Linked DNA regions of Homo sapiens: regions 1, 2 and 3 are each linked to region 4. Evidence: fine-mapped expression QTL. A gene starts in region 4. Each other region holds a variant in brackets. All regions are shown on one strand. Distances are between the middles of the regions.

Region 1 (8,189 bases), 21 kb before region 4:
AGGTGTGAGCCGCTGCACCCAGGTGAAAGCTATTTTCTGTAAGCCCTTGAAAAAAGTTGTGCCACTTCCTTTTGGTATCCATGGTTTGGTAAGGTGTCATTTCTCTCGCATTGCTTCCAAGATTTTTTTTTTTTTTTAATGATTATCATTATTATTATTATTTTAAAGACAGGGTCTCCCTTCATTGCCCTGGCTGCAGAGCAGCATTGCAATCATAGCTGACTGTAACCTTGAACTTTTGGGCTCAAGCAATCCTCCCACCTCAGCCTCCCAGGTAGCTAGGGCTACAGATATGAGCTACCATGCTCAGTTAATTTTTTTTTGTTTTTATTTAATAGTTCTCAGAAGTTTAACTCAAGTGTTTTAGTGTGGAATTTCTTTGGATTTATTCTCTTTGGGATTCGTTCAGCTTCTGAAGTCTGCAGAGTTATGTCTTTTGTCAAATTTGGGAAATTTTCAGCCATTGCTTCTTTGATTTTTCAGCCCCACACTTTTTCCCATCTCCCCTGGAACCCTTATGACACAGATGTGAGATCATTGTTCATAGTCCCACAGGTCCCTAAAGCTCTGTCCATCTTGTTTTCCCATGCATTTTCTATTCATTTTTCAGAATGGGAAATTTCTGTTCTGTCTTCAAGTTCACTGGTTCTTTCCTCTGTTCTGTCTATTCTGCCAGTGATTCCTTTATAGAGTTTTTAAAATTTCAGTTATGGTATTTTTCAGTTCTAAAATTTCCATTTGGTTCTTCATTATGTCTTCTATTTATTTATTTTTTTTTTGGCTGAGACTTTCTATTTTTAGTTTGTTTCAAATGCGTTCTTAATTGCTTAATGAAGCATATAATGGTGGCTTTCAATTTTTTTACAGATAATTCTAACATCTTTGTCATCAGTGTTGACATCTCTTGATTGTATCCTGTCATTCCATTTGAGATCTTCCTGGTTCTGGGTATGATGTGTAACTTTTGATTGAAATCTAGAGATTTTCATATTATGTTAGTAGGTTGAAGGTGTTATTTAAACTTTGTTTTAGCTGGCATCCTCTGACATCACTCCAGCAGAAGAAAGGGAAGGAACACGCTGCATTACTGCGTGGTGAGTGCAGTAGTCTACCTTCGCCACATGGCCTCCATTGATCCCTGAAATGGGTGAGGGGCTCCTTGTTTCTGCTGGGCAGGAGTGGACTTTTTGGATCTGATCTGGGGCTGTACTCATACCTTTGTGGCTGGGAGGGTTCGATATTTTTCAGCACTGTATCCAATATCACCTGCACAGACACCTTAGGGGATGGGGACTTGCTGTTGCCTGGCAGGGATGAAAGTGCCAGCTCCCTAATTGGCCACCTCCGACAGCACCAAGGTAGACAGGAGGGATGTTACAGCTTAGCAAGCATGTTACACTGAGCCCCCTAGTTGGCCTTTGCTGGCATGTGTGGAAGTGGGGATCAAACTATATTTCTGTGGTGTTAACTAGAGTAAAGCAGCTCACTGTCTAAAAGTTTTCTATCTTGCTAAGTCACAACTTTCCTGGTCCTCTGGCTTTGGTCCTTCTTTCCTCCCTCCCTTCCCGTCCCCCTTTCCTCCCTCTTTTCCTTCATTCCTTCTTTCTTCTTTCCTCTGTGTTTGTTGACATTTCTAGATCCCAGCTCCTTCAGCTCCATGTCTGGTATATATGGGCAAAGAAAGAAAAGAGAGAGGGAGAAAGAGGACGGGAGAGAAAGGGAGGAAGGGGAAAGGAGAGGAGAGGGAAAGAAAGAGGGTAGAGAGAGAGGGAGGGAGGAAGGGGAAAGGAGAGGAGAGGAGAGGGAAAGAGAGAGAGGAGGAGAGGGAGAGAGAGAGAGAGAGAGGAAGGGAGGAAGGGGAGAGGAGAGGGAAAGAGAGGAGGAGAGGGAAAGAGAGGAGGAGAGGGAGAGAGGGAGAGAGAGGAAGGGAGGAAGGGGAAAGGAGAGGAGAGGGAGAGAGAGAGGAAGAGAGGGAAGGGGAAAGAGAGGAAAAGAAAGAGAAAAAGAGAGGGGAAGGGAGGAATGGGAAAGGAGAGGAGAGGGAAAGAAAGAAAGAGAGAGAGACACACACCAGAGAACTAATTAACTCCATTGTTCCTCAGGTCACAAGGTCCCCGTCTGATCTGCCTTCACTCCACCTTTCAGAGTCTTATGTTTGTTTTGTGTATATTATCAAGGGGTTTTAGGTCACTTAGTCGGAAGAATAGGGAAAAGTATGTCTACTCCAGCTTAATGGAAGTGGAATTCTCCTGAGAACCTTTTTTTGATACAAAATATGTACTTGTGCATATTTTGTATCAAAATATATAATGTACATGTCCCTTTTGTACATGTATATAAATTGTATATAAATATTTAGGGTTATAAAAATAACCAAAGACACCAAAAACTGCCACAGGTGGATTTGAGAAGATGTGGAAATGCCTCACTGCTAAGACATGCTCATTCTTGACAGGCTGGGAACCCTGAATGCTGTAGTGTCACCACTGCCCTGTCCTGTACCTACCTATCTTTTCACTCATTTCCTCCAAGCTCAGGTTTTCAGTTTGGGGTATGTGCCACCTAACAGTGAGCTGTGGAACTGCAGCACAATCATCAAATTCAAAAAAGGCAAGGACATCTTGCTCAGTTTTTAAGATACGCCATAGATGGAGTAAACCATAACCTTTGATTCCAGATCCTTAACCCTGATTAAAAACAACACAACCCTTCATGTTGATTTAAAACATCCCTTGCAAAAGATGGTTTGAATATTCCAAGTTGGAAATACCCAGTCTTTTAAAGTTACAGCACCCTTTTTGATACAAAAAATGTGCATGACAGAAATTGTACAGTGAGTAGTGTTATAAAAATAACCAAACACACCAAAAGCTGCCACGGGTAAATTTGAGAAAGTGTTGAAATGTACCGCACAGCATGAGACCTTGCTGGCTCCGTCTAATAGATGACGCTGGGGCTGCAAATGATGTCCCAGCCTTCCAGGGCCTGTGGTCTCCAGAACAGGGCTGAAACCTGTTCTGAGTTGACAGTGCTTTCCCAAGGAGACCCCAAGTTGAGAGGACCCTCTTACCCACTCATCAATAATCAAAGCAGACTTGATGCCCATCAGAGATGCCCAATGATTCTGGTGAGCCGTTCCTCCCTCTGGCTGTCAGTACTGGGGAGTATGGTGGGGACTTTCAGATAGCTCAGTGAAGCTCAGAAAGAGAGGGAGTTCCCCCTGACACCCGCCCCAGTCAGTAAGCCCCGGGGCCTGAGGGGCATCCCCACTGCTCGACCTCTCCACTCTCTCGGGGAGGACGAGGCAGCCTTGACCCACGAGGGCTGATGAATGGGTAGGTTATCGGCAGGCTCCTAGGCCACCAGCTTAGAGGTCACATTGTCCCTTTTAGATTCAGTGTGGCGGGAATCTAAAAGGTCGAGGATCGAGAAGCCTGCAGGATGGCAA[C/A]GTGAGGGACCCCGGCAGTGCGACCTCAGGAATCCACTCCCGGAACTCTGACTGGGGTGCCTGTGGAGGCTCTGAAGGTACAGCAGCCAGGCGCTCTGTGGCATTCTGAATACTGGCACGCAGCCTTCGGCCTCTGCCAGCTTTTGTGAGCTGCCCTGCACCAGGCAGAGGGGGCCCCCAGGCCTGGCACAGGGTCTGACACATGGCAAATGCTACAGAAATAGCTGTGGACCGCCTGACTGCAAGATCGTATTGAACATCTGGTGCCGGGCCTCAGCCTGTGCTGCTGCAGCCAGGAGCAAATACGGGGAAGTCTGGCTAAGGAGAACGCATGCCTGTGTGGGCCCCAAGGATCCATCTTGAGATCAGGAGGAACAAGAGCCCAGTGACCTTGACAGCCAGCTCAGGCAGCCTGTTAAATCCCATGCCCAGAGGTTTCTAGCTTCTGCCCCAGAGGCCCAAGATGAGGATGTGGCAGCACAGGTAGGCCAAGGGAAGGATGAACTCAAAGAGAGGTGGCCAGACCACCTGAGACACCTGTTGAAGTGCGCTTTCCCATTCCCAGACCTGGGAGCTTCTGAGACCAGGTGCAGAAACCAGATTACACTCATCTTTCTGACCTAATTCACAGAGTGGATAGCAGCCCCCACCTAAGCACAGCCCCCTCACTGGGCAATAAGTCAGCAACAGCAATGCTGGCCACACGGGAGGCCCTCAGGTGTCCTCACCCCACCCCTAGGTTTACTGACAGGTACCCTGCAGGGGAGAGGGTGGGGCCCTGAGCTGGACTCCACCCAACACTGCCACCTCCCCAGCCTGTGTCCTCCCTACCACCCGAGGAGCTGAAGGACCCAACAGCACACCCTCAGTGGTTTCTGAAAGGAAGCAAAGTTCTTTCTACCCTTTTTCACTTTGGGTGAAAACATGTGGCTGGGTTGACAAGTCGGTTTTTTAGAAAGGAAGCACTGACTAGCGAAGGACTCGCCCAGCCAGAAGAGGGCTCTGCAAAGACAGCCCCATCCCCAGGATGGGAATGCTGGATTCAGACACCACAAACCAAGAGAACCCAGACTCTGGACGTGGAGCAGTACCAGGGTGAAAGACTTTTCCCACCGACATGGTCACATAGCCATTCTCCTTGAAGTACTGGGGGATGGTGGAGAAGTTTCCAGCGTGCACCCTCCAGTAGGAGTTGAAGTCGTACAGGCGGGTGGTGTCAGGTCTCCTGCCAGTGAGGAAAGAAACGCGGCTCGGGGCGCACACTGCTTGCTGTTAGGGAGCAGAAGCAGAGGTAAGCATCGCCACAGCAAAACATGTCTGCCATCTCTTAGGTAACCAAGCAACCGCCCTCCCGAGGCCCCTAGCAAACAGCTTGGTAGCTGAGTCATGCAGAGCTCAAACCAGACACTGGGATTTGGGTGTCACCTAGGCAACAGACTGCTTCCGGGAGAGAAAAGGGAAGCAATCAGCCCCTGAAACCAGCAGTTGCTTATCTCCTCCTACGCAATGGCCTCCCCAGGCACACAGAGCGGCCAGTGTTGCTGGGGGCAGAGCCATGAGGGGGTCCAGGGAGCAGAGCCACCCTGGCTAGCTCTCACCTGAGGCCCAGTCTGCAGACCTGTGGGTGCCCTTCTGCAGCACCCCTTCCTTCTGAGCACCAGGCAAGCGCCCGTTCTGGGAGAAAGCTGGCCAGGGCTGCCATGAACACATCAGGGCCAGGGCGCACCTTGCACCCAAGGAGAAGGCCACCCTTGAAGGTCAAGCTTTCCCATGAGTGGAAAACCAGATTTTCTCCACTACCATTTTCCAGACTATGCTTCCCTCTAACAAGATGTCCCGCACAATCTGTGCCATCTGACAGTAGCTGAAGCTCCCCGCCCCCAACCCTCAGTGCACGAAGCAGCACACACCCACAGCTAGAGGTTCCCAGACATACCTGCGCAAAGGCATTCTGGAAGAGGAGGCTGTGGGATGCCAGTTGGTCAATGTTTGGGGCCTTCACTAGTTCATCCCTGCAACTTGAAAGGATAGGACATGTGCTTTGGAAAATAACACCTGTAGCCAGCCACAGTGGCTCATGCCTGTAATCCCAGCACTTTGGGAGGCTGAGGCAGGTGGATCACTTGAGATCAGGAGTTCGAGGCCAGCCTGATCAACATGGAGAAACCCCATCTCTACTAAAAATACAAAATTAGCTGGGTGTGGTGGTGCATGCCTGTAATCCCAGCTACTCAAGAGGCTGAGGCAGGAGAACCGCTTGAACCCGGGAGGTGGAGGTTGTGGTGAGCCGAGACTGCGCCATTGCACTCCAGCCTGGGCAACAAGAGTGAAACTCCATTTCAAAAAGAAAAAAAAAGAAAAAAAAAGAAACCACCTGTAATAGAGTGAGGGAAGTAGAATTGGGAGGAAAGTGGAGTTGTTTTATGACAGTTGAATCAGACGTCTCAGTCAGTCCCTGAGGGAGCTCTATGGTTGGGAAGATTCTATAGAGATGTTGCAAGTAGAGGCTGGAGTCCAGGTGTTGGTACTCTCCACCCTTCATTGACCCCTTGACTGATATTTGGAGAGAGACTTAGTTATGTGCCATCATCAAGCAACACCTTTGGCAGGCAGTGGAATGATGACCTCCACCATTAGGCTGGGCTGTGGAACGACCACAGCATTGACTACAGCCCATGCCTTGCAGGCCTCAGATGGGCTTGCTTCACACAGGATGCTCCCCTCATTTGGGAATAACTTCTCCAGGGTTTGGCTTGGCCCTTTTCCTAGGGAGGTGAACATGAGGCAGGGTAGTGGGACGGTGTATGGCCTGCATGACTGCAGCTGGCTTTGAAGCCACAACTGATGCTCATGGTCTTCTTCATCTACTATCCATTCTAGAGTACCCTCAGTCTCAGCCACCATGTCTGCCGTTCTCAGTGACCTGGCTGGTCGAGTAACAGACCTTTATCCCTGAGGATTGTTTCTGAGCCCATGGTCCCCGTGCCCTTCTCAGACTGTGGAAATTGCATGTGTCCATTTACCATAAAAATTGGGCAGGGAATTATTAGGAGACATTCAAATGGATCACCTGGGTGCCAAATATATCCTTCTCTGTTCACAGTGTGTAAGAACAACCCTGCCTCCTCCTGATGATCAGAGCCAATACCCCTGACAGAGTGGCTACTCTTCTTTACACCTGCTTAGTCCCACAGCCATAGCAGGAGGAATGAACCCAAGGTTCCCATGACTTGTAATTCAGTTATCAGCCATGGCTCGTAATTCAGTGGGGCTCCTACTGTGTCTACTGGTGGAAGCATTTCCATTTGAATAGCCAGGATCCACTGTTCAATAAGGTAGCCACTAGCTGCATGTGCCTACTGAGTACTTGAAATGTACCTGGTGTGTCTGAAGAACTGAATTTTAATTATCTAAAATTCAGATAAAATAACAACTAATTTTATCTTAATTTAAATTTAAATAGATGAATTTGGCTAGTGGTGACTGTATTGTGGGGACAGGAAGCACAAATTCCCATGTGGATCACTAGGAGAGATAATAAGTGGGGTCATTTCACCCCTTGGTCCCCTGCTTCCAGACCCAAAGAGGCCTACATGGCATTGTGCTTCCTTCTTAGTTGTAGGAGGTGTGAGATACAATCATTTGCCTCTGACTTTGGAGGGTTGGTCCTAGCATGCCCCTGACCAGTAGCCCCTTAAATACTTCATTGATATGGAAGGTCTCTGAATCTTCGTGGGCTTAATCTACCACTCTCTGAAGTGCTTATGTCTTTCAAAGGCCTCTAAAATCTCTGCCATGTCTTGCTCATCCAGTTGTTAGCATGATGTCATTGATACAGTGGACTTTGGAATCTAAGTGGGGAGACACTGGTAAGTGACCAATTACTTCACCTGTGGTGTGCAAGCCAGATCAGGAAGCCTCTACCATTGCTTTCCTGTGCTGGGAAAGCTATTTTTAGTGTGTAGACTTCATGCCAGATTTGCCCAGATCAGGGGCGGGATGCCCAGAGCTCCTGGTTATTGGAAGTGCTCTACCTTGAGTACAGAAATCCACACCAACTCACTCCCTTCTCCAAGGGGACCCTCACCCTGAGGAATTTAACTGGGCCTTGCTAACATGCTGGGAGAATGTCCCTGAGAAAAAGAGCAGTGAAGGCGCACATGAATTTCCTGTTGCATACCCACAGTGGGCCAGAAACAAGACCATTGGATTTTTACCTCGTACTTTTGATGTTTGGCAGCCATTGATTCTAGTTCGGGGGTGAAAGATAGAGATGACACATGTATTGGAACCTTTCTTGGGGACTGCTAGTCTTAGGGACAAACTGCCAAAATCAAGCTAGGCAATGGTGGCCACAGCTATGGGATGGAGAGTGAGGAATAGGACATATAAGCTGACAGCTGGAGGCCCAGACACTGCCCATGTTAGTGTGGTTGGGGACAAAATAAGGAACCAGAGTGGGTGGAACAGGAGCAGTTCAGGGACTCTGCAGAAATAACCTATGGCTCCTCAGAGATCTTACAAGGGAAGCTTCCCTTGAGCACCTAGATGTCAAAGAGATTGGCAGAGGCAGGAAGGACATGTTCCCAAGCAAAAAGTAACAGCAGCTAACTTTGATTTCATGGAAGGTGCGAGTCCAGCTGTGAGTCAGAATAGGGAGACAGGCAGTGAACAGAGGACAGAATGATGACCTGCAGTGCTGAGAAACAGGCCTATCCATGACTTTGTCCTCAGTCCCTGA
Region 2 (8,189 bases), 510 kb before region 4:
TGGGTGTGTGATTGGGCCTGACAACTACTGGGTCCCTTTCACCAGCCATCAGACTGACATGCTGTGCCTTATCAGAAGGTAAGGAAATTGAGGTTTAGCATCTCTCTTCCCATGGGCCCACCATCCCCTCCCACAGAAGACAGACATCCCCCAAGGATATTACAACCTCTTTACCAGGGTACACTTAGGTACCTAAATCAGGGATAGACAAGAGGCTTGCTGCCACTGTGTTTCCCACTGAATGTGCCTGGTGCTGTGAAACTGGAGCAGAGATGATCGATGTCATGCCCTCCCTAGAGGGGCTGCAAGGTGCATGCATCTGATCCTGACTCTCCCAACATCCAGGCTCCTGCTGGGGATGGATGAACAAGGATGAGAAAGGGGGGCCCAGGTAAGGCCACGGGCACCAGAAATCAAGGGAGTGGTGGCCAAAAACCCATCCTGGAGATGTGGGGAGTTTGTAGGAGGTAGATCCATATGTGAATCAAGATTTCAAGCCCCCAGTACATGCTTCATTGTCTCATTACACTTCACTTACAAAACACAGGTTTGAAGATAAAAAAGATAAAAATCATTAAGTTTCAAATGGAAACCACAGAACATTAATCTCAACAGTCCCCAGAGTGTGATGTTCCCCTTCCTGTGTCCATGTGTTCTCATTGTTCAATTCCCACCTATGAGTGAGAATATGCGGTGTTTGGTTTTTTGTTCTTGCGATAGTTTACTGAGAATGATGATTTCCAATTTCATCCATGTCCCTACAAAGGACATGAACTCATCATTTTTTATGGCTGCATAGTATTCCATGGTGTATATGTGCCACATTTTCTTAATCCAGTCTATCATTGTTGGACATTTGGGTTGGTTCCAAGTCTTTGCTATTGTGAATAATGCCACAATAAACATACGTGTGCATGTGTCTTTATAGCAGCATGATTTATAGTCCTTTGGGTATATACCCAGCAATGGGATGGCTGGGTCAAATGGTATTTCTAGTTCTAGATCCCTGAGGAATCGCCACACTGACTTCCACAATGGTTGAACTAGTTTACAGTCCCAGCAACAGTGTAAAAGTGTTCCTATTTCTCCACATCCTCTCCAGCACCTGTTGTTTCCTGACTTTTTAATGATTGCCATTCTAACCGGTGTGAGATGGTATCTCATTGTGGTTGTTGTGGGGTGGGGGGAGGGGGGAGGGATAGCATTGGGAGATATACCTAATGCTAGATGACGAGTTAGTGGGTGCAGCGCACCAGCTTGGCACATGTATACATATGTAACTAACCTGCACAATGGGCACATGTACCCTAAAACTTAAAGTATAATAATAATAATAATAATAATAATAATAATAGAACATTAATCTCCCAGCATGGCCCTCCCTTCTGAGCATGGGGTCCTGTGTAAATGCACTGGTCACATGTCTATTAAGCTGGTTCTGTCTCTGGCAATCCTAATGTGCAATCATGGTTGACAATACCAAGCTATATACTAAAAAATCGGTGGTCAGGTTGGTTTTGCTCAAACTCTCAGGCTGCCAGAGCTTCCACAGAAAATAATGGATGGAGACACTGACCTAACAGTATCTGAGAGGAGATCAAACTGGGTATCATTGCCTAAGGCAGTGGCATTATAGTGATCACAGTAAGTAAGCAGGAAGGTCAAGTCCTCAGTTTTGAAGAAAATCTCTAATTATCTCTCCCTCTCAGAGCCCATGGTCCTATCTCAGTACCTGCTGGTTGCATGTTGGCCTGCCATGCCCAATGCGAGGGATTTTAAGACACAGGTTATATACATCTAATCAAATTGCAGGTGCCAGATAAGCCACAGAGGCCACCTTTCCCAGACTCTTCTCCTCTCATTTATTTTACCTACCAGCAGGCCAAGAAAGGACCTCAGGCTGCTCCAGGCAGCCACCTGGGTCCTGGGTCCAGTGCTCATCAGCCAAATTCCAGAACTAGAATATACAAACCCTCTCACTTCTAGCCCCCAGCATGATCAAGTTCCTCAAGGGCCTTCTTTCTTTGTTATCCAATCTTGACTCTTTTTAGAACCTTTTAGCCTGTGTCAACTGCTCGGCACATAGCAGGCACTCACTCAATGGTTGTAGCCTGATGGATTGGCTCACTTTTGGCTTGCTCACGGATCAGTTCTTACATTCTCTCCCCTAGCTTCCATTGCCTTCCTTGGCTCCTCATTCAAGCAGAATGCCTTCCACCTCTCAGCATTCTCTCTCTGACCTTTCCCTAGTACCGAAATGTACCCTTATGATACCAGTATAACTGCATTTACATTACAGGGCAAAGAGAAATAAACTGAGTACATATCTGGAGATTTATCAGAGGCCCTTTCTGACACCACAATCAAGTGGAGTTTATCACAAGATTGTAAGGTTGCTTCAATAATAGAATAATTCAATTGATATAACTGATCATACTAAGTCTAAAAAGGCCACATAATTGTACCAATTGATATAGAAAAAGCACTTGACAAAAGCCAACATCCATTAATTATTAAAAATAAATCTCAGCAAACTAGAAATAGAAGTAAACTTTTCTCAACTTGAACATCTCCAAAAAACCTACAGATAACATCATACTTAATGGTGAAAATCTAAATGTTTTCTCCTGAAGACTGGTAGCAATGTAAGACATCCACTCTTACCACCTATTCCACATCATTATGGAAGTCTTAGCCAATGCAATAAGGCAAAAATCAATCAATAAAAGGCACAGATATCAGAAAAAAAGAAAGAAAACTCTGTTTGTAAACAGCATGACTATCTACACAGAAAATCTCAAGAAGTCTACATAAAAACTCCTAAAAATAAGTGAGTACTATAAAGGTGATGGAATACAAGTCAACACACAAAAATCAAGCATATTTCTATATACCAGCAATGCACCACTGAAAACCAAAATTTAAATATATGTATACATTTAAAATTTATAATAGCTCAAAACAAATTTAAATACTTAGGTATAAGTGTAACAAAATATGTACAGACTCTGCATCCTGAGAACCATAAAACCCTGATGAAAGAAATCAAAGAAGATTTAAATAGAGTTATACCATGCTTATGGACTGAAAGAAACAGCATAATTTAATGCAATTCTAATCAATATCCCATAGAACTTTTTGTATTTACAGATAAGTGGAATGTAGAATTTATATAAAAAGCAAAGGAACTAAAAGAGCTAAAACAATTTTAAAGAAAAAGAATAAAACTGTAGAAATAACATTAACTGATTTTAAGACCTACTGTATATACACAGTAATCAAGACGGTGTGGTATTGTCAAAGGGAAGGACACACAGATCAATAAAACAGAAAACAGAGTCTAAAAATTGGCTCACATAAACATAGCCAACTCATTGTTGACAAAAATGCAAAAGCATTTCAATGGAGAAATGATATGTTTTTTCAACAAATGGTGCTGAAATCATTGTATAACAGTATGAAAAAAAATAACATTAACCTAACCTTACACCTTAAACAAAAATTTACTCAAGGTGGATTATAGATCTAAACATATAACATAAAACAATAAAATGCTTAGAAAAAAATAGGAGAAAATTTTCCTGACCTTGAGTTACTTGAAGAGTACTTGGATATGACATCAAAAGCATGATCCATAAAAACAGAAGTTGATAAATTGGATTTTATCAAAATTAAAAAGTTTTGTTCAGTGAAATACACTGTTAAGAGAATGAAAAGACTAGCTACAGACTAGAAGAAAATATTTTCAAATCACATATCTTACAAAGGCCTTTTATCTAGAATATAATAAAGAACTCTCAAAACTCAGTAGTAAGAAAAAAGTCCACTTAGAAAATGGGGAAAATACATCAAACATTTCAACATTACATTTCAACATAGATGTGTAGATAGCAAATAAGCACATGATACTTTCAACATTGTTAACTATTAGAAAAATGCAAATTAAATCTGTGATGAGATAGCACTGCATAGTTGCATAGTTGCAAAAGAGACCTCATGGCCTTCAAAGCCTAAAATATTTACTTTCTAGGGCTTTACAGAAGCACTAAAATATGCACTTATCCACAGTGTTCTCAACACATCTGGTGGGCTACAAACAAACACTGAGTCCACATTTCATGTAT[G/A]GCTATCAAATCTGATCAGAACTCTTACCAGTACTGGACAGTATAGGAACTGCAGAGCAATTCCTGAGGGTTTGCCCTCAGCTTAAACACACACTTCCACCCGCCCCCGCCACTTTTTACTATGTAAACACCTCTTTACCCTTTAGGACTTAGCCCAAGCATCACCTCTTCCTGAAGTCTTCTCTGACCATTCATTTCCACTCCAGGCTGGGAAAGGAACCTTCTCTTTATTCCCATGATACCCTCTGCATGCTTTTGTCACTTTGAAATAGTATTTGCTATGGTCTGAATGTTTGTGTCACTCCCAAATTCATGTTGATACCTAATCCCCAAAGTAATAATATTAAGAGATGGGACTTTTAGGAGGTGATTAGGTCATGAGGGTGGATCCTCATGAATGGGATTAGTGCTCTTATAAAGAGTGCTCAGAGAGTTTATTAGCCTCTTGCCCTTTTCACCGTGTGAATATGCAGCAAGAAGGGACCATCTATAAAGGAGAGAGCCTTCACTAGACAACTAAACCTGCTGGCACCTCAATTTTTGGACTTTCAAGCCTCAAGAACTGTTGGTGATAAATTTATGATATTTATAAAATTTTCCAGTCTAAGGTATGTTGTTATAGCAGCCCAAATGGATTAAGAGTGTTTTATAACTGTTTGCTTGTCCCTCTCTCCAACAAGAGTATAAGCTCTTTAAGGAAAGGAAAAGTATCAGTCTTTCTATCATCGCTACTCAGTAATGGTGATAGAAATATAGTGATGGGTATACTTCATAAGTGCTTATTGGATGAATGGACAGATGGTTGGATGAATGGATAGACGAGAGAGAGAGAGACAGAAAGAAACTGAGAGAGAGAGGGTAAGTCCATTTCCTAAAGTCACACAAGTTTTATCCAAATTAGGACATCCCTTAAGAGCAATCTCATCATCTCTCTACTGTGGGATTATTTGATATACTCTCTCACCCAAACCACGTGTGTGTGAGTGTACATGTGTGAACCTACTTTTGTATGATGTTGTGACAAAAGAGGACTTATTTTACCAGCTGCAACCCACAAAAGGAGACACCAAAGCCAGAGCCCAGTTATCCTCATTTGACTCAGACCCTCACTGTGACTGTGCATGGTAGCCCCACTATTAGGGTTGCATACTAACCCTGGATTATAACCTCTTAGCACTCACAAGATCACTCAAATTCCACTTGCCTTCACTGAACATATATTCTATGCCAAACTGAGTGTTGGATACTTTCACATCAAATGCCTCACTGAATCCTGTATCAACCCTTGGAGGTAGGTAGTGATCATTACTTCCATTTTAGAATAAGAAAATTGAGGCATGAGTGGTAAACAGAGAACAGATACTCAGCTCAACGGGAAACTAGATAGTAAGGCACTTAAATCTTAATCCTAGATTATACCATTTTGATGTCCCATTATGAAGCCATATTATGAGTCAGGGAGTTATTAAACGTTTAATTAAAGGTTTTTGGAAAGAAGAAAAGTTTTCACTGCAATAAGTAGCACTCTAGGTAGGGGAAACCTGGTCATCTGAGTTGATCCTGAATTAGGGGCATTTGCCCAAGTCATTGGCTTCCGTGCCTGCAAGGTACAAAAGGAGAGATATCACCTGATTAAAGGAAAGACTCTATGGTTGACCAAGGGCCTACATGTTCTAGGGTATGGATGGGGGAGCTCATGATGTCTTTGTCTGCAGGAGAAGAGATATTCCCAAGAGTTTCTTTCAAATTAAGAGATAAAAAGCGGAAGAAGTAAAACAGAGAAGTGAAGGAAAGAAAAAAACACCATAAAATGCCATTTCTTCTGCCTTAGCAAGGTCAGTTCAACACAGTATGTCTCTCCTCTTGCTTCCTTTCTAATCTCACTCCTTAGATCACGTATAAAGTATTTAGCTTTATTACTTTTATTAAGACATAATCATTAGTGTAAATCACAAGGTCAGAAAGCCATACATCTTTAGGGAAATCCAACTTGATGTGGTGATCAATAATTTGTGTATTCAGGATCATCAACCTCACTGCACCTTTTAAGCATCTATCAAAACTAGTGTTGATGAATGGAAATACTCCCTTCAATTTTAAGTAAATCTTAGGGCATAAATAATCCAAGCTCAGACAGCATTCTAGTGACAAGATAGGCCAAACCAAAATGGGCTACACAAGTGTAAAGGCCTTGTGTTAAGAATTGTTGAACCATATTTCACTCAGTGTAAAGGTTTTCATTTGAAGTAGATTTAATACAGTCCATTCCAAACAGGCCCTTTGCAATTCATTGGGAGCTTTAAGAAGGTGGGAAACTTTAAAGGCACACTTTATTCTAAAATCCTTTGTTGGACACCTGAATACATACAATGACAATCATTAGCAAGAATAAAGGTTTTATCTCATTTCCACAGTACATTTTACTTAATATGTCTCCAATCAGCAGTGCTCTACCTCTGGAATTCCAAGCTCAACTTGTATCTAAGCACTGTCAAATGAAAAGGAGATAATAAAATTACTAGTGTGTTGCAAGGTGATTAAATTTACATAATGACTCTGGATTTGATCAAATGCCAGATCCCCCTCTAAAAAAATTACCTGTAGAGGCATTAAATCTTCCAGCCACACACACTTCACTGCGTTTATGCTTTATCCACAGAAGCTCCCGTTTATCTTAGCAGAGATTACTGCCATCCCACCACAGGAACACAGCATGCAGGTAATGCCTGGAAGCTTATTTAGAAGAGTGGCAGGGGCTCATGCTGCTGATTTGCAGAATAAATATCAGAAAAATGTGAGAGAGACATTGTGTTCATCCAGAGAACAGACTGTACTACAGACTCAGATGCAGACTTTTTCTACTCTACCAAAAATGGAATGGCTTCTTAAAATGCCATCCAAACACGTTCTCCTGAAACTCAAGGCTTCCCCACTACTAACAAACTCTAAGGAGCTTACCATGAGCGGGCCTTTCCAGGAGCAAACTGGTGAGAATTCAGGCTATGGTGTGTCAGATTTGGAAATCCATTCCTGTCAAGCTGGTAGGTAACTAATGCATGTTCTCTCATCCTAAATATCATCTCAAAATAGGATTGCATAGTGGGATATTTCCCTGTTGCTTGTTTGCTGCATGGCCCTGGATGGCAGTCTTTGGAATAAAAACAATCACACAAACAAGTAAAAAACCTATGCATTATAGTAATGACACACAGCCAAGCAAAAGGCACCATGATACAGCTTCCAGAATACTCATCATGCCTATTGAAAAAAATTACACAACCAAAGAGCTCTGAAATATGATTTGCTTCTAGAACATACCACTGCAAATTGGTGGTACCAGCTCAGAGAGAAAAAGAAGTCTTACCACTTTCCAATAAAACATCAAGAATAGGGACTGTAGCATCAGCATGTTGTTGACTGGGTCCAGACTGCTTTTGTCAGATAAAAGCAATTACTTCTCTACTATGACTGATGTAAATTGGTCACTCCACATATCCCTAGCTTCAGTAACAGGCAGAGTCTTGGCTGGACAACTACTAAAACCTAAACCCCACTAAAGCTCTTGCTGTTCAATGTTCTATGTTATCCATCCCTTTCAAAGCATCCCACTGTTTGCTATTAAATATGCACCAATCTCTTGCCAGTCTTCTGTAGAGATTTATTTTATTTTATTTATTTTCTATGCAACAAAAGCCACATTCAAAATCTTCTGTAAAGATTTAGAGGTAGCTATGGTCCTCCTACAGCCTACCTACAATACACCTGTACTGCATTCAGTGAAGATAAGACTCAAGTCTCAGGTCAGCATTATCAGTAAATTTTAGAGTTAACCACAACTGTAGCAGGCGGGTTGCCTCAGCAACCTGTAACAATACTTTAGCATATGTCCAACCAAGAGTACTTATGAAATAACCTATAAAAAGTGCCATTATTGGACTACTTTTCATGCGTGTAACAATTTGTATATAAAAAGACCAAATTTTCAGTTGCCAGCACCAAGTAAGGACTATATACTAGTGGATTAATGATTTCTAGGCAGATTTTATTGCACTTAAGAATATGTAT
Region 3 (8,189 bases), 24 kb after region 4:
GGGAAGTGTTCAGCAATTTAGAAATTGATGTAACTGCACGGCCTTTCAGTTTATTTCCAAATTTTATCTCTAGCTGTGTCTTTTCCCTGAACTTCAGACTTTTGTTTCCAATAGTCTTTCCCACTTAGCCAGCCTAACATATCCAAAGCTGGACTTCACATCTTTCATCTTCAGCTTTTCCTTCAACACTCTTCTTGTCCTCAAGAAATGAGAATAGTCACTCATGCCAAAAAATCATGGAATAATCTCAACCCCTGTTCTTCTCTTACTCCATATGCAATATTCAGTCTATGAGAAAGCCTGTCACACTCCATTCAGACTCTGTGTACCACTTCCCACCACTTCGCCTGCCACTGTCTTGGACCAGACTGCCACTGTCTTGTGCTGAAGTACTGCAAGAGCTTGCTAAATGGTCCCCTTGCTTGTGCCCTGGATCCCTTGGAGGTTTTCCTCCTCAGAGCAGCCACAGTGATTCCATTAAAACCCAAGTCAAGTCATGTCACAGCCCGGCACAGGAGCCTCTTATGTACCCTTCTTGATCTGAGTAAAAGTCGTCACAGTGGCCTTACATGTTCTGGCCCCATTATCTCCCTGACCTCATCTTTTTATAAGTATCCAGGCCAGTTGTCCTATAACAGTGTCCCACAGCCTGGATTTATCTGATTGCTTCCACATGACTACATTCAGGGTAACATTTTTGACACGTGTGCTACATGGGCTGTTGTATTCTCCCATTGTGTCACATGGTGGGGGCACTTCATGGCCAGCGTTACTAGTATTGTAAGTTTGAACACTCGGTTGAAGAGCTAGCTAGCATCAGCCAGATCTTGCCATTGTAAAGGTACCTTTTTCAACTTTCTTTACTTGTTTTCTTTTTATTTTACTTAAAAATTAAGTGTCTAGAAAATGAAATCAAGCATGATAAAGCACTGTCTTAAAGATCCAGAAGGGCCAGAATGGTAGTGCAAATCCAATTGCAATTTTAACAGGAATCAATATAAAGTACAGTATTTAGACTTTAAATATGGATGAACCGCAATGAAATACTACTTCATACCCACTAGGATGGCTATTAATAAAAAACAACAACAAAAGCTGTGAAAGGCTGGGCGTGGTGGCTCACGCCAGTAATCCCAGCACTTTGGGAGGCCAAGGTGGGCGGATCACGAGGTCAGGAGATCAAGACCATCCTGGCCAACAAGGAGAAACCCCATCTCTACTAAAAATACAAAAATTAGCTGGGTGTGGCGGTGCATGCCTGTAATCCCAGCTACTCAGGAGGCTGAGGCAGGAGAATCACTTGAACCTGGGAGACGGAGGTTGCAGTGAGCTGAGCCGAGATTGCGCCACTGAACTCCATCCTGGAGACAGGGCTAGACCCCGTCTAAAAAAAAAGAATGAAACAAGTGTTAAGAGTGTTAGTGATTATATGGAAAAATTGGAACACTTGTGCATTGCTGGTAAGAATGTAAAATGGTGCAGCCACTGTGGAAAAGAATTTGGTGGATCCTCAGAGTTAAACATAGAATTACTCTATGGCCCAGAAGTTCCACTCCTAGGTATATATCCACAGAGCTGAAAACAGGTATTCAATCAAAGGTTGTACATTACTGTTCATAGCAGCACTATTCACAGTAACCAGAAAGTGGAAGCAATTCAGATGTCTATTGACAGAAGAACAGACAAAATGTGGTCCGTCCATGCAATGGAATATTATTCAGTCTTAAAAAGGAAGGAAACTGACACATGCTACATCATGGATGAGCCTTGAGGACATTATGCTAAGTGAAAAAAGTCAGTCACAAAAGGACAAATACTGTATAATCCCACTCCTATGAGGTATCTAGAGTAGTCCAGTTCATAGACATAGAAAGTAGAATGGTGGTTTCCAGTTGCTGGGTGAGGATGGAGAAAGGGGAGTTGTTACTTAATGGGGACAGAGTTTCAGTTGTGTAAATTAAGAGGAGTTCTGGAGATAGATGGTGGTAATGATGGCACAACAGTATAAGTGTACTTAATTCCACTGAACTGTATACTAAAAAGTGGTTACGATGGTAAATGTCATGGTGTGTGTATTTGATCGTAATAAAATGCAAAGATAACTCTAATGCAGACATCCAGAAGGGAGTAATGTGTGGGGTGATCCTGTGGGAGTCAGAATATCCTGTTCCTCAACAGACTCTTTTACCTAGTGGTTGTAGCCTTAATTGATGATCCTTGTCTGAGTCAGTTATTAAATCGGTGGTTCCAAAATTCAGGTTGTTTTAAAAAGCGCCAACAGCCTCGTGGGGCCCTAATTTTGCATCCTGCTATTTGATTGGATGAGTAATTAATGCAGGGTGAGGTGCCGAGGTGGTGTTTCTAAACGTCTGTTGCTAAAGATAAATGTTGTAAATTAAAAAAAGAAAACATATGGAGCCCAGACAGGTTCCTTTACTGCTCCTGCCTGGCCATGGCAGGCTTTTATAATGTAACCCATTCTGCTCTGTCGCTTCCTGTTTCAGGCAGGCAATCCATGGACCTTGTGGAACTTGTGTCTCTTTTTCCCACGCTGGCTGGACTTGCAGGACTGCAGGTTCCACCTCGCTGCCCCGTTCCTTCATTTCACGTTGAGCTGTGCAGAGAAGGCAAGAACCTTCTGAAGCATTTTCGATTCCGTGACTTGGAAGAGGATCCGTACCTCCCTGGTAATCCCCGTGAACTGATTGCCTATAGCCAGTATCCCCGGCCTTCAGACATCCCTCAGTGGAATTCTGACAAGCCGAGTTTAAAAGATATAAAGATCATGGGCTATTCCATACGCACCATAGACTATAGGTATACTGTGTGGGTTGGCTTCAATCCTGATGAATTTCTAGCTAACTTTTCTGACATCCATGCAGGGGAACTGTATTTTGTGGATTCTGACCCATTGCAGGATCACAATATGTATAATGATTCCCAAGGTGGAGATCTTTTCCAGTTGTTGATGCCTTGAGTTTTGCCAACCATGGATGGCAAATGTGATGTGCTCCCTTCCAGCTGGTGAGAGGAGGAGTTAGAGCTGGTCGTTTTGTGATTACCCATAATATTGGAAGCAGCCTGAGGGCTAGTTAATCCAAACATGCATCAACAATTTGGCCTGAGAATATGTAACAGCCAAACCTTTTCGTTTAGTCTTTATTAAAATTTATAATTGGTAATTGGACCAGTTTTTTTTTTAATTTCCCTCTTTTTAAAACAGTTACGGCTTATTTACTGAATAAATACAAAGCAAACAAACTCAAGTTATGTCATACCTTTGGATACGAAGACCATACATAATAACCAAACATAACATTATACACAAAGAATACTTTCATTATTTGTGGAATTTAGTGCATTTCAAAAAGTAATCATATATCAAACTAGGCACCACACTAAGTTCCTGATTATTTTGTTTATAATTTAATAATATATCTTATGAGCCCTATATATTCAAAATATTATGTTAACATGTAATCCATGTTTCTTTTTCAAATCTAAAGTTAAAAAAAAATAGCAGAAGCCAGTGTCTTAAAGTCTATCTTTTGTTTCTAAGACCATGGGATTTCATAATCTCAAGATAAAATATGTATGAAGTAATTAATGTAGAATTTTTACACCAAATAATAAATAATGCTTAATAAACTAGAGATATGAGATGTGTAGGAAATTTGGTTAAACTTTTTTCAGATACTTTCTGGCCCAAATAATAATTTGTTAGCAAATAATATGACCCTTGAACTCAATGGCCATCTATTAAAAGACTGTTGTTCACACTGGAAAACATTTAAAGATGTGACTATATCCATGGGTGGATTGAATCACTCAAAATATATTAGTATCCTTCTTTAGGGATGGTTGGTTACAGACATGTATTTATTCAGGAGGCAGAAAATATTCCATTTTAATTGCTTATTAAAGAAAACATTAAATTCTAAATTATTTTGAGGACTGTGAAGACTTTTCATTAGTGTAATATTAGGTCATTGTCAATCTCCCAGAATGTAGTTCTATATTCTCTAAATATGAAAGTATCCAGAAAGGCCAGTGGTAGTAAAAAGCTTAGTGTATATAATCTCAAAAGGGATGGAATATTTACA[A/G]CTCATATTTATAACATGTTGAATCTTCTCAGTTATCAGTAGTCATCAGAAGTGTCAATAGCTTTCTAAATAAATATTAAATATCTACTGTCCTGTAGTGAAGGAGTAATTTTTAGTAATTTTCTCTTTACAAAGTCTCCAGTGTTTCCAGGTAAATATTTGTGAAACAAAATACAGCAAACTACATTGTTACTTCAGTGTATTGTTGCCAAAAATGACAAGATATTATATTAAAATCAGTAAATTTTAGACAGATTTTAAAAATTAATTAGCCTACAATAGAGGTTATATGGTAACACGGTGATCTTCTAAGCAGTTAAGTGACTGACTGTTCTGGCAACAACGACTTCTCCGTGACTGAAGGGCCCTGTTCATTTCCTGATCCTGAAGCTCGTCTCTCTTTTGAGCCTCCGCTTGCTTTGGTCGATGGTTTCCCTCAGCTTTTTCTTTGCTGTTCTTCATCCTCGTTGTTGCTGTCATCATGTTCACTGTGGCTTTTACAATACAGCCTGTAAATTCCTTATGACATAGTTCAGTGCATTTGGCTTTATTGCCTGCTCCACAGTTCTTTACCTTTACTTGGCTTAGAGAAACTGTATCTTTGTTGCTTCATATAACCTTTCCCCAACCCCACTAAGCTGGACATAACTTATTAGTGGTCCTCCCGTCACTTTATTTGTAGAAATCTCTCTTTCACATGAGCAGGGGTTCTTTCATGTGGTTTAGCTGACAGCAGAACTAGTGATTCTAGACATTTTGCATGGCCCTCATTCAGTGGCTCACAAACATGAGGGAGCATCAGAACTACTTGAGGGGCTTGTTAAAACCCAGTGCGTTAGAAGTCGGATGCGGTGGCTCACACCTGTAATCCCAGCACTTTGGGAGGCCCAGGCAGGCGGATCACTTGAGGTTAGGAGTTCAAGACCAGCCTGGCCAACATGGTGAAACCCCGTCTCTACTAAAAATACAAAAGTTAGCCGGGTGTGGTGGTGCATGCCTGTAATCCCAGCTTCTTGGGAGGCCAAGGCACAAGAATCGCTTGAACCAGGAGACGGAGGTTTCAGTGAATGAAGATCGTGCCATTGTATTCCAGCCTCGGCAACACAGCAGGACTGTGATTTTCTTTGGAGACTCCTAGATTTTCTGTGGTTTTGAACTGAATTTGTTGGATGTTGGCAAGTGCCTCTTATGAGCTGTTTCTTTATCCTGCATTTGCCCCACAAAGACTTATCTGGAGGTGAGCAAAGTATGTTTGGTAGTGAGGTCACAAAGGCAATCAGCCCCTTCCTCCCCACTCCCATTGCCATCTTCTCAGTCCTTCTCCCTTTCTTTCCAAGTAGTTTACCCACCCCTCCTCTTTCCTCCCCTGTCCCTAAAATAATCCACGTGTCTTCCTAAAATCTCTCTTTGATCCTGTCCTTTGATAACACCGTCAGTGCCTACTACTGGGTCTAGACAGACCTCTGTTGAGCAGTCAGAGTCTTCCCTGACTCCACAATGCCCCTTTCCTTGGCTGACCAGTATGACTACTGGTCCCCACCTTTCCCTTGCCTATCCCTACCTCCCTCCTACTAGGTTGTCCCATCCCTCTCTTCACCCATTCATTCATGACCATTTTTCACTACCAAGCTCCCCCCCTCCCGAAGGAGGCTGAGGTTTTTGTGACTCTCTAGACTCTATTGTGGGATGGAATGAACATTGCTAAAGAATCTTGTGTTCGCTTTACTTTAAAAAGGTATTTTTTTCCTAATTATAAAACTGATGTGTCAGTTACGGAAAAATTAGAAATGCAGCACAAATACATGAATATTTTACCACAAAATTGCCATATAATATCTTGTCTTTTTTGGGGGTGTGAATTTTTTGCATTGTTCTGGTCATATTCTTTATCATGTAATTTATGTTCTTTTTTACTAAGTATTATGTGTGGTTATTATAGATTTTCACAAAGATATATTGCTGGTAATATATTTTATTGTGTAGTCTTATAATTTACTTAACCTTCTTTCAATTGTTAGAAATTTAGGCTATTTCCAGATTTTCAGTATTGTAAATAATGCTGTGATGACCAATTTTGTGAATAAAATGTTTTTATGTATTTCAGATTATTCCCTTAGGATAGTCTCTCAGTGCCAAGTTGTCAAAAACATCTCTATTTTGCTTATCTTCCTGCTCTCTTGCTGCCTTAGGGGGTAGTAAACTGAAACATAAAGTAAACATGCATACAAATAAAAAACATAAAACAAAAATAAGCAACCTGATGGTAATAGGTGAAAGTGGTAACCTGTTTTAACTTTGAATTCTTGCCGGGCGCGGTGGCTCACGCCTGTAATCCCAGCACTTTGGGAGGCTGAGGCGGGTGGATCACGAGGTCAGGAGTTCAAAACCAGCCTGGCCAAGATGGTGAAATCCCGTCTCTACTAAAAATACAAAAATTAGCCGGGCGTGGTGGCGGGCGCCTGTAATCCCAGCTACTTGGGAGGCTGAGGCAGAGAATTGCTTGAACCCAGGAGGCGGAGGTTGCAGTGAGCCAAGATCGCGCCACTGCACTCCAGCCTGGGTGACAGAGCGAGACTCCGTCTCAAATAAAAAACAACAAAAAACAAAAAAAACTTAAAATTCTTTGCTTGTTAGTGACCTTGATCATGGTTCTCTTTGTACGATAGTTGGGCATCTGTATTTCCACTTGTGTGAATTTGCCTTTAAATTTTGGTTATGGGTTTCACCTTTTAAAATAATCAAACATATTTATCTTTTCCTGTGTGATAGGTTTTTTTCTGTATCTTTTCCTGTTAAACACACAGACCCCTCCCCAATCTGGACATTGAATAAATATTCATTTTCCTTTGCATTGTTTGGGGTTTGGTTTTATGCTTACTGTGTCTCTCCACCCCATTATCAGAGTAATATATGCTCATTGCATAAAATCTGGAACATGTGAAAACTGGAGATGAAAAGAAGCCCAGCATTTGAGACATACCCACTGCTGACATTTGTATATTTCCTTTCATTCTTTTACCTGCCTAAAGACATATATGCAGATATGGACATATTTAGCTTTACATACATGCAGACTACCACATATAATCTATATCTTGTTTTTTTGATCTAACACAATGTTAGCTTGGTTTTTTATGTCATTGACAGTTCTTGATTAACAGCTGTAATGGCTGCACAGCCCTGCTTCATTAATTTTTTTTTTTGGACTGAAATGTATGTACCACGTTCCGCTTATCCATTCATCCACCAGTGACCACTTGGGTCATTTCTACCTTTTGGCCATTGCAATAATGTTGCTGTCAACAAGGATGTACAAATATCTGTTCGAGTCCCTGCTCTTAATTGTTTTGGGTATACACCCAACCTACATTAATCTTTAATCACTTAAGATGTTGGGGTTTGTGCTGGGAGGTAACCAAGTGACTCTGGAGCAGCCTCACCCTAGCTACAGAGGGAAACTGACTCTTCCCTCTCTGCCCAATCTTTTGCCGCCTGTCAGGTTCCCAAGCTGTCCATACCTTACTGTGTGAAGCGCTTTGGGTATAAACTCCCAAATAGAGGCTCAGCCCCTTTTCCTTTCCCAAGTCCATCCTGCAGGTTATAGCTCTTCAGAGGAATCTCTTGAATTCTGGCCTGGGATCTGGGATTAAAGTAGAACCCAGGGTGTCCCTTGGGGCCTTAGGCATAGCCCGTTGTGGTGGAACCTGCCATCAGCCCCACTGCACTCAGTGGTCCCCTGGTACTTCAGGACAGTTTCTCTCTTCTGCACATGAGAACTTCAAGCAGAGAGGACTGTCAGTTGTTGCCTTCACATCACCAATCGTTTGGCCATAATGGCCAAGAGCCCTCACTGCTCTTGGGTCTTGCCTTTCCACATGTTACTGAAAGCTCCCGTTGGTGTCCCTGTCCACTAACTCACCTGATGGGACAGATGCCACTTTCCTCTGAGTGTCTGATAAAACACAGTCTGTTGTGGGGAGCCCACGCTCAAGGGTTTTCTTTGGGATCAGAGTTTCCCGGCTATTACTCCATGCCCTGCCTGACATCACTGTCATGTATGGTGCTAATCACCAAAGGATGCCCTTG
Region 4 (8,189 bases):
TCCTCCTTGGAACACCATTTCACGTGCCTACAGAGCCCAGGGCCCTCCCTATGACTCTGCAGGGGAGAGAGCCCTCACTGGCATTGGGCTGAGGACAGCCTGGGACACTCCCTTTCCTCATCCAGGTAGTTCTCATCATGGTTCTCATCCCGAGCCCTTGAAACCCCACGAAGGTACTAGCCCCTGGGATACAGTAGTAAATGGACAGGGCAGAGCCTGCCCTTGAGGGGTGCCCATCCAAGGATCCCTGGATCTGGAATGAGAGACAAATCTTGAATTCTCCCCTGAATCCTCATCCTACCATTGTGTGGGACTATATACCAATTTGCCAGTGTGCATTGTCCCCTCCTCCTGGAGTTAGGCTCAAAGGCGGGGGTAGGGTAGAAGTCCAAGAGCAAGGGGACTCCCTTTGCTGTATGGTACCCTAGAAGGTCCAGAGTCCTAGAACTCCTCTCACACCAAATCCACATATCTTAGCTGCAGAAGTGTCTGGAGCAGTCCCCTGAGCTTCCTGTGACACTAAAGTGGCATGGGAAAGCAGTTGAATTTTCCCGTGCCTCCAAGGAGGTAAGAGAGGGAGGGAGAGAGAAAGAGGGAAAGAGAAAGAGGGAGAGAGGGAGAGGGAGAGGGGGAGAGAGAGAGCGAGAGGGAGAGCACGTCTCCAAAAAATGTCACATAGAAAATGGCATGGACTGTGCAGCTAGGAACCAGGTTAGAATGACGACACCACATTGGAAGACAGCATGAAGGTATGCCATCTCTGAGCGCTGGATGGGATTGTACATTGGGAGTGGATGCTGGCATGGACAGGTTGCCATTGACAACAAGCAGATTCTCTTCTCTCTTGCTCTCTCTCTCCGAATTTAAGAGTCTCACAGAATTTAGGTGATAGGCTGGGGCAAAGGAGACAATCCTAAATTGCTTGATAACAATAATTGGTAATTAGTAAGACAATCCCGAAGTAACTGGGAAAATGTGGAATTGACTAGATTAAATTTTCTGTTATCTGTTGGAGTTGAGACTCAAGATAGGGCTCTTTTGTGGTAGATGCCATTCTAGATGGCCCCCAAGTTTCCTGCCTCCTAGTGTATGTGACCCCTTGTGTATGGGTAGAATGTACTACAATCAGCCTCCTTATCCATGTGTTCCACATCTGTGGATTCAACCACCTGTTGAATTTGAAAAAGATGGGTGGTTGTCTCTGCAGTGAACATGTACAGACTTTTTTCCCTTGTCATTATTTCATAAATAATGCAGTATAATAACTATTTACATGGCACTTACATTGTATTAGGGATTATAAGTAATCTAGAGGTAATGTAAAGTATACGGGAGGATGTGTATGTATGTTATATGTAAACACTGCACCATCTTATATAAAGGACTTGAGCACCTGTGGATTGTGCTATCCACAATCCCGAGCTTTAAGTGAGAATGTAGTCCTTCACTGCAGCCTTTTGAGACCCTGAACCTAAGACCCAGCTTAGCTGTGCCTGGATTTCTGACCCACAGAAAGTAGGAGGTGACAAATGAGTAGTGTTTACAGCCACTAAGCTTGTGGTCATTTGTTACATAGCATTGATTGGCCCTTATCCCTCATTCACTGAAGACTCAGGTACCAGGCTCACAGGTGACCTTGGTACCCTGTGTCCTGTCATCATTCTGGGGGACTGCAGTGTATTCATCAGCAGCCTGTGCCACTCACAGACCCTTGACTTCTTCCTCATCTCTAACCTCTAGCAATCTCTTCCCCCCCACCTCAGCCTCCCAGCTTCAAGGCCACATCCTTGACCTTTAAATCACCAGGATCTGTTTTACCTCAGAAATCTTAAATTTCAGGGTCTCATTCTGGGACTAAAACCAGTACTCTCACACCCTTGCTGCCTCTCTATATCCTCACCCATCTCCTAGATCTTTGTTTGTCCCCAGTCCACCAGTCTTCTTAACCACTGTCAGCCACCTGAACTGCTCTCTTACTGGCTCTCTCCACTTGCTCCCACTCTTGTCCTTCTGCTGCTATGAGCCCCAGCAAAACCTCGAGCTTACACCAGAGCAAACAAACAACAAAAACAAACACACACAATTGTGCCAAGTGGCATATATAATTTTCTATCCCAGCTGAGACAATCAATCTTGTTAAATTTTGAATTGTTTATAGGTAGTGTTAGTTTTCTAGGGCTGCTGTAACAAAGTACTACAAATTACATGGCTTAGAACAACAGAAATGCATTGTCTTACAGTTTTGGAGGCCAGAAGTCTTAAATCAAGGTGCCAGCAGGACCATGCACCCCCTGAAACCTATAGAAGAAGAATGCTTCCTTGCCTCTTCCTAGCTTCTTGTGGTTTGCTGGCAATCATTGGCATCCACTGGCTTGTAGATGCATCACTTCAATCCATTGTCTTCACATGGATGTCTTCTCTCTATGTGTTTGTGTCTGTGTCCAAATTTTTTCTTTTGATAAGGACCCCAGTCATATTGGATTAGGGCCCAACCCAATTACCTCCTTTTAACTTGATTACCCTGTTAAAGACCCTGTTTCCAAATAAGATCACATTCTGAGGTACTGGGTGTTAGGACTCCAACATACAATTTTTGGGGGGAGGACACTAACACCTAAGTCAAAAAGGACCAAAAGACATACCATACAAAGCAAAGGCCCTCTGCCCTGCACCTTCCCTCTTCTGTTCTCATTTTAAATGTTTCTACTTTCATTTCTTCTAGTAGATTGTCCCTGTCTTTCTAAATACTATGCTATTTCTATATCAACTTTCTAATGTTTTCAACTTTAGACATTGCTGACTTCTTCCTATGATAGATGAGATCACTTATCCATTCCTCTTTTTATGTACATATTTTTAACCTTGGATTTTGGAAATTGATCAAACCTATACAAGATTACAGAAAATAGTATAATAAACCCCAGGTGTTCATCAATGAACTTCATTGGTTATCAACTCATGACAAATTTTGTTTCATCTCTCCCTGCCATTTTCCCTTCTCCTTTTACTATATAGATTTATTGCCATTTTTAAGTTTTCTATTGTTTACTTTTGTATCTTTAAGTAATATCCCTAAATCTGTATTTCTCTTTCTATGAACTGGGGACAGCGACTATTGATTTATTATTATTATTATTATTATTTTTTTGCGATAGGCTGGGGCAAAGGAGACAATCCTAAATTGCTAACCCTAAATTAATGTGCCTACATTTCCTGCCATCTCCCTTCCTCCTCCCAGCTTTTTGTCAACTGTTGCTGCAGGCCAGGTTCCCAAGGAAGCTGACTAAGATGTAGAGTAATGTGCAGGAAGTTTCTTAGGGAGTACTCTTAGGATCAACACCTGTAGAAGGGGAGGGGAGGGAAGAAATCAAAATTCAACAGACAGAGAAAGTGGGCAGTCTCAAAAAAGGCTTCAGTTAACCCCACAGGGAGCTCTGAAGCTGAAATGGCCTTTCAGAGATGTCCCAAGTTGGGGTAAGGGGCTGCACCTTTGTACCTTCAAGTTGAATCACTGATGTGGGCTTCCTGAGAACAGGGGTGACCTTGGCTGAGGTACCTATCTTTTTCTAAGACAATTTCTGATGAGGGCTAACGACAGCTAACAGCTCTCAAGCCAGCTAGGGAAATAAAATTTTTGGTGTTGAAGGGAGATCTGAGCAGTGCACCACAGCACCATCACAGCTGTATTTGTACCTTCCCATTGTCCATTGTTGTTTAGTCATAATTAAGTCATCTGGGCTTTGTTATAGATTGATTCTCAAAGTTGAAAATCAAACTGTGTTTGCAGTATTAGGACGGTATAATAGTATTCAGTACAGTACAGTGTAGGGCTAGGATTCCATCTCCCCACAATTGCTGCTCTCTCTGTTTGGCGCACCCTTCTTGCAGACCTCAATGCGGCTTGCTCCCTCACTTGCTTCAAAATTTTGTTCAAATGCCACTTCACTAGTGAGGCCCTGCCTGGCCACCCCATAGAAAATAACAAGCATGCCCCGCACCCACGCTTTATTTTTCTCCAGACCGGGTATGCCCACCGACACTCTCTATATTTTTTTATTGTTTTAAGCTCCACCAAAGCAGGGACATAGAGCCCCAGTGCCACCAACAGCGCCTGGTATACATATTTGCGATACTTAATAAGAATTAGTTGAAGAAATGAATAGGAAAGGGAGTCCCTTTAGATGGAGGAAGGGACTTTCTCAAAAGGCCTCATGGAAGGAGAATGGCATTGAGGCTGGCTTACAAGAAGTGTGTCTTTTATAAAAAGAAGGAAGGGCAGGGCTTCCAGGTGAAAGGCATAGCACAAGCAAAGGCAAAAAGACGGGTAACTGCTAGTTGTTAAGGGCAGTGGCTGAATCGCTATACCCCTAGCAGTTCTACACCTAGGGGCCTGCGGGCCGCTGGGTCTGCGAAGCTTGCAAGGCAACTGGCCCGCCCCCGCTCTGCGCCTGTCTCTCGGCCACGCCTATTGCTGCAGGATGACGCGCACCTCTAGAACCCGCCCCGGAGGGGAGGGACGCAGGGAAGAGTCGCACGGACGCACTCGCGCTGCGGCCAGCGCCCGGGCCTGCGGGCCCGGGCGGCGGCTGTGTTGCGCAGTCTTCATGGGTTCCCGACGAGGAGGTCTCTGTGGCTGCGGCGGCGGCTGCTAACTGCGCCACCTGCTGCAGCCTGTCCCCGCCGCTCTGAAGCGGCCGCGTCGAAGCCGAAATGCCGCCACCCCGGACCGGCCGAGGCCTTCTCTGGCTGGGTCTGGTTCTGAGCTCCGTCTGCGTCGCCCTCGGATCCGAAACGCAGGCCAACTCGACCACAGGTGCCGCCCACGCCCTCCCTGCCATCTCTTCTCCCTTCCTCCCTCCCTTCCTTCCTCCTTCCTTCTTTCCTTCCTTCTTTGTTTATATCCATTCTTTTTACCCTTCCTCTCTCCTACCATTCCTTCTTTCATCCATCATTCGTTCCCTCCCTCCATTTTTCACTCCTTCCTACCGTCCCTTCATCCCTCCCTTCCCTCTTTCCATCTATTCATCCATCCATCTCCTATCCCTCCGTGCTTCCCTTCCTCTTTCCCCCCATCTTTCCCATCTCTATCCATCCATCTTTCCCCCTCCTTTCCTCCCTCCATTGGTCCATCCGTCCCTTTTACCTTCTATCCATTCATATTTCTCTCTCTTCTCCCCTCCTTCTCTCCATCCTTTCTTCCCTTCAGCTATTCATCTTTTCCTCCTTATCTTCCTCCATCCAACCATCTGTCCTTTCCTGCATACATCATTCTCTTTTTTTCCTAAATTCATCTTTCCTTTCCACCATCTTTCACTCACTATCTCGCTTCCTCACCCAGGTTGGAGGCCATGACCAAAGCCTAACCCTGCCACCCAGGACTCAGGCTTCCTCCTCGAGCCCCACTCCCACCCTTGCTGAGGCACAGCGCCCTCCCTGGCTAGGCTGTTAAGGTGCAGGGTCCAGCCTTGGGCCTCTTAGTAACCTAGCACCTACCATGAGGGAGGGTTCAGTGTCAGTGCAGGTTACCTCACCAAAGCCCCTCCCTCCTGTGTAGATGCTCTGAACGTTCTTCTCATCATCGTGGATGACCTGCGCCCCTCCCTGGGCTGTTATGGGGATAAGCTGGTGAGGTCCCCAAATATTGACCAACTGGCATCCCACAGCCTCCTCTTCCAGAATGCCTTTGCGCAGGTATGTCTGGGAACCTCTAGCTGTGGGTGTGTGCTGCTTCGTGCACTGAGGGTTGGGGGCGGGGAGCTTCAGCTATTGTCAGATGGCACAGATTGTGCGGGACATCTTGTTAGAGGGAAGCATAGTCTGGAAAATGGTAGTGGAGAAAATCTGGTTTTCCACTCATGGGAAAGCTTGACCTTCAAGGGTGGCCTTCTCCTTGGGTGCAAGGTGCGCCCTGGCCCTGATGTGTTCATGGCAGCCCTGGCCAGCTTTCTCCCAGAACGGGCGCTTGCCTGGTGCTCAGAAGGAAGGGGTGCTGCAGAAGGGCACCCACAGGTCTGCAGGCTGGGCCTCAGGTGAGAGCTAGCCAGGGTGGCCCTGCTCCCTGAACCCCCTCATGGCTCTGCCCCCAGCAACACTGGCCGCTCTGTGTGCCTGGGGAGGCCATTGCGTAGGAGGAGATAAGCATCTGCTGGTTTCAGGGGCTGATTGCTTCCCTTTTCTCTCCCGGAAGCAGTCTGTTGCCTAGGTGACACCCAAATCCCAGTGTCTGGTTTGAGCTCTGCATGACTCAGCTACCAAGCTGTTTGCTAGGAGCCTCGGGAGGGCGGTTGCTTGGTTACCTAAGAGATGGCAGACATGTTTTGCTGTGGCGATGCTTACCTCTGCTTCTGCTCCCTAACAGCAAGCAGTGTGCGCCCCGAGCCGCGTTTCTTTCCTCACTGGCAGGAGACCTGACACCACCCGCCTGTACGACTTCAACTCCTACTGGAGGGTGCACGCTGGAAACTTCTCCACCATCCCCCAGTACTTCAAGGAGAATGGCTATGTGACCATGTCGGTGGGAAAAGTCTTTCACCCTGGTACTGCTCCATGTCCAGAGTCTGGGTTCTCTTGGTTTGTGGTGTCTGAATCCAGCATTCCCATCCTGGGGATGGGGCTGTCTTTGCAGAGCCCTCTTCTGGCTGGGCGAGTCCCTCGCTAGTCAGTGCTTCCTTTCTAAAAAACTGACTTGTCAACCCAGCCACGTTTTCACCCAAAGTGAAAAAGGGTAGAAAGAGCTTTGCTTCCTTTCAGAAACCACTGAGGGTGTGCTGTTGGGTCTTTCAGCTCCTCGGGTGGTAGGGAGGACACAGGCTGGGGAGGTGGCAGTGTTGGGTGGAGTCCAGCTCAGGGCCCCACCCTCTCCCCTGCAGGGTACCTGTCAGTAAACCTAGGGGTGGGGTGAGGACACCTGAGGGCCTCCCGTGTGGCCAGCATTGCTGTTGCTGACTTATTGCCCAATGAGGGGGCTGTGCTTAGGTAGGGGCTGCTATCCACTCTGGAAATTAAGTCAGAAAGATGAGTGTAATCTGGTACCCAGGATCTATAGGGTCCCAGAGACGGACATTCCTTACCTCAAATGCTGCCTGATAAACTGGCTCTCTTTAATGCCAATATGGGGATAGTGAAAAGCAAACAAACTTTAAAACTTTTTATTTATAGAAGTAATGCATGAGTATTTGAGAAAAAAAATGGAGAAAAAAGTATTGGAAGACAAGAGCACCATAGGGACAATAATGCTTATCATTTGGGAATGACGAATGTTTTCAGTCTCTTTCCCTTTGCTCAGTGGTTACACCGGCAGGCTTGGCAGCCTTCTGCAGGAGCTCAGCTGGCCAGCCCAGGTTGAGAGTGACATTCAGCTCTACTAAGTCAGGCCAGTTTCAGAGGTGAACCTGTCAGGAATCATATTGCACAGCCAAAAGTCCAGTGTCAGGAGAACTTTCTGCAGTTTGGTGTTCTCATTACCATACCCCTTGCCCAAATGCAGCTGGAGGGAAGTGATGATTTTGGAGAGAGGAGGAAACACAGCAGAGGGAGGAGATTGTGCTTTGGGAGGGGAAACCAGGCAAGGACTGAGTGATGTTGCTTGACCTCCTCCCTCCTGATGATTGGATTTTGGCACCAGGCTCTAAGCACCATGTCCTTCTCAGAGAATAAACCTTTCCCTGCAGCCCTTGTGGGAACACATTTTTCAGCTGAATCTTTGTTCTCAAGACCTTTTTCTGTTAGCATTGGGCCTGCTTCAAGATGACAGTAGCCACCACTGTGTGCCAGGTATGTACCGTTTACCATGCTGGCCACTCCTTTAATCCTCCCAACAGCAAGCAAGGTGGGTTTTTATCATCATCATCATTTCCCAAGGAAGACATGAAGGCTCATGGGAGTCAAGTAGCTTGCCAGAGGTTGCAAGGATGCTAAGAGGCAGCATCAGGATTTGGACCTGTGGTTGTTGGCTTCCTGTGTGCTCTTTCCACAGTGCTTGCTGTCTTCATAGGCCCTCCACCCGCTGCCCTCTTTCTCTCCATTCCTGTCTCTTCTGGTACTCCCTATGGGAGTCCCACTGTGTGACTGCTGCTGATGCTTTCTCACGAGGTTCTGCCTGTGATCCCCTCCACTCCCAGCTAACCACTATAGGCAGCACTTCCCTTCAGATCCCTCACAGGCCTCACTGGCTCCTAGAAGTCCTCCCT

Alleles and levels. Alleles are on the strand shown, and positions count from the first base shown. SD is a standard deviation of normalised expression in the study named. Not every link is listed here.
In carriers of allele A in region 1, the expression in testis of the gene that starts at base 4,542 in region 4 tends to be lower than with C alone (small effect, 0.13 SD a copy in GTEx).

What was found.
Region 1: its variant is fine-mapped to the expression of IDS in testis (GTEx, PIP 0.92).
Region 2: its variant is fine-mapped to the expression of IDS in whole blood (TOPMed, PIP above 0.99).
Region 3: its variant is fine-mapped to the expression of IDS in whole blood (TOPMed, PIP above 0.99).

The regions. Positions count from the first base shown.
Region 1 is chrX:149,522,272-149,530,460 of GRCh38, reverse strand. EOLA1-DT (EOLA1 divergent transcript) reads left to right here. Exons shown (of 10, transcript NR_027455.5): 8 at 868-948; 9 at 1,033-1,094; 10 at 2,103-2,870. It also overlaps the pseudogene IDSP1. Among named protein-coding and RNA genes, the nearest start is that of EOLA1-DT, 13 kb to the left of the region's middle. The variant C/A (reference allele first, on the strand shown) is at 3,449.
Region 2 is chrX:150,015,034-150,023,222 of GRCh38, reverse strand. EOLA2-DT (EOLA2 divergent transcript) reads right to left here. Exons shown (of 12, transcript NR_027456.1): 10 at 7,083-7,272; 11 at 6,723-6,886; 12 at 6,436-6,612. Among named protein-coding and RNA genes, the nearest start is that of EOLA2-DT, 81 kb to the right of the region's middle. The variant G/A (reference allele first, on the strand shown) is at 4,125.
Region 3 is chrX:149,477,534-149,485,722 of GRCh38, reverse strand. IDS (iduronate 2-sulfatase) reads left to right here. Exons shown (of 9, transcript NM_000202.8): 9 at 2,505-8,189. The coding sequence ends at 2,977. Among named protein-coding and RNA genes, the nearest start is that of IDS, 24 kb to the left of the region's middle. The variant A/G (reference allele first, on the strand shown) is at 4,104.
Region 4 is chrX:149,501,659-149,509,847 of GRCh38, reverse strand. IDS (iduronate 2-sulfatase) reads left to right here and starts at 4,542. Exons shown (of 9, transcript NM_000202.8): 1 at 4,542-4,813; 2 at 5,555-5,691; 3 at 6,359-6,536. The coding sequence starts at 4,711. RefSeq lists enhancers at 4,638-4,797, 4,790-5,291, 5,415-5,963 and a silencer at 5,354-5,453.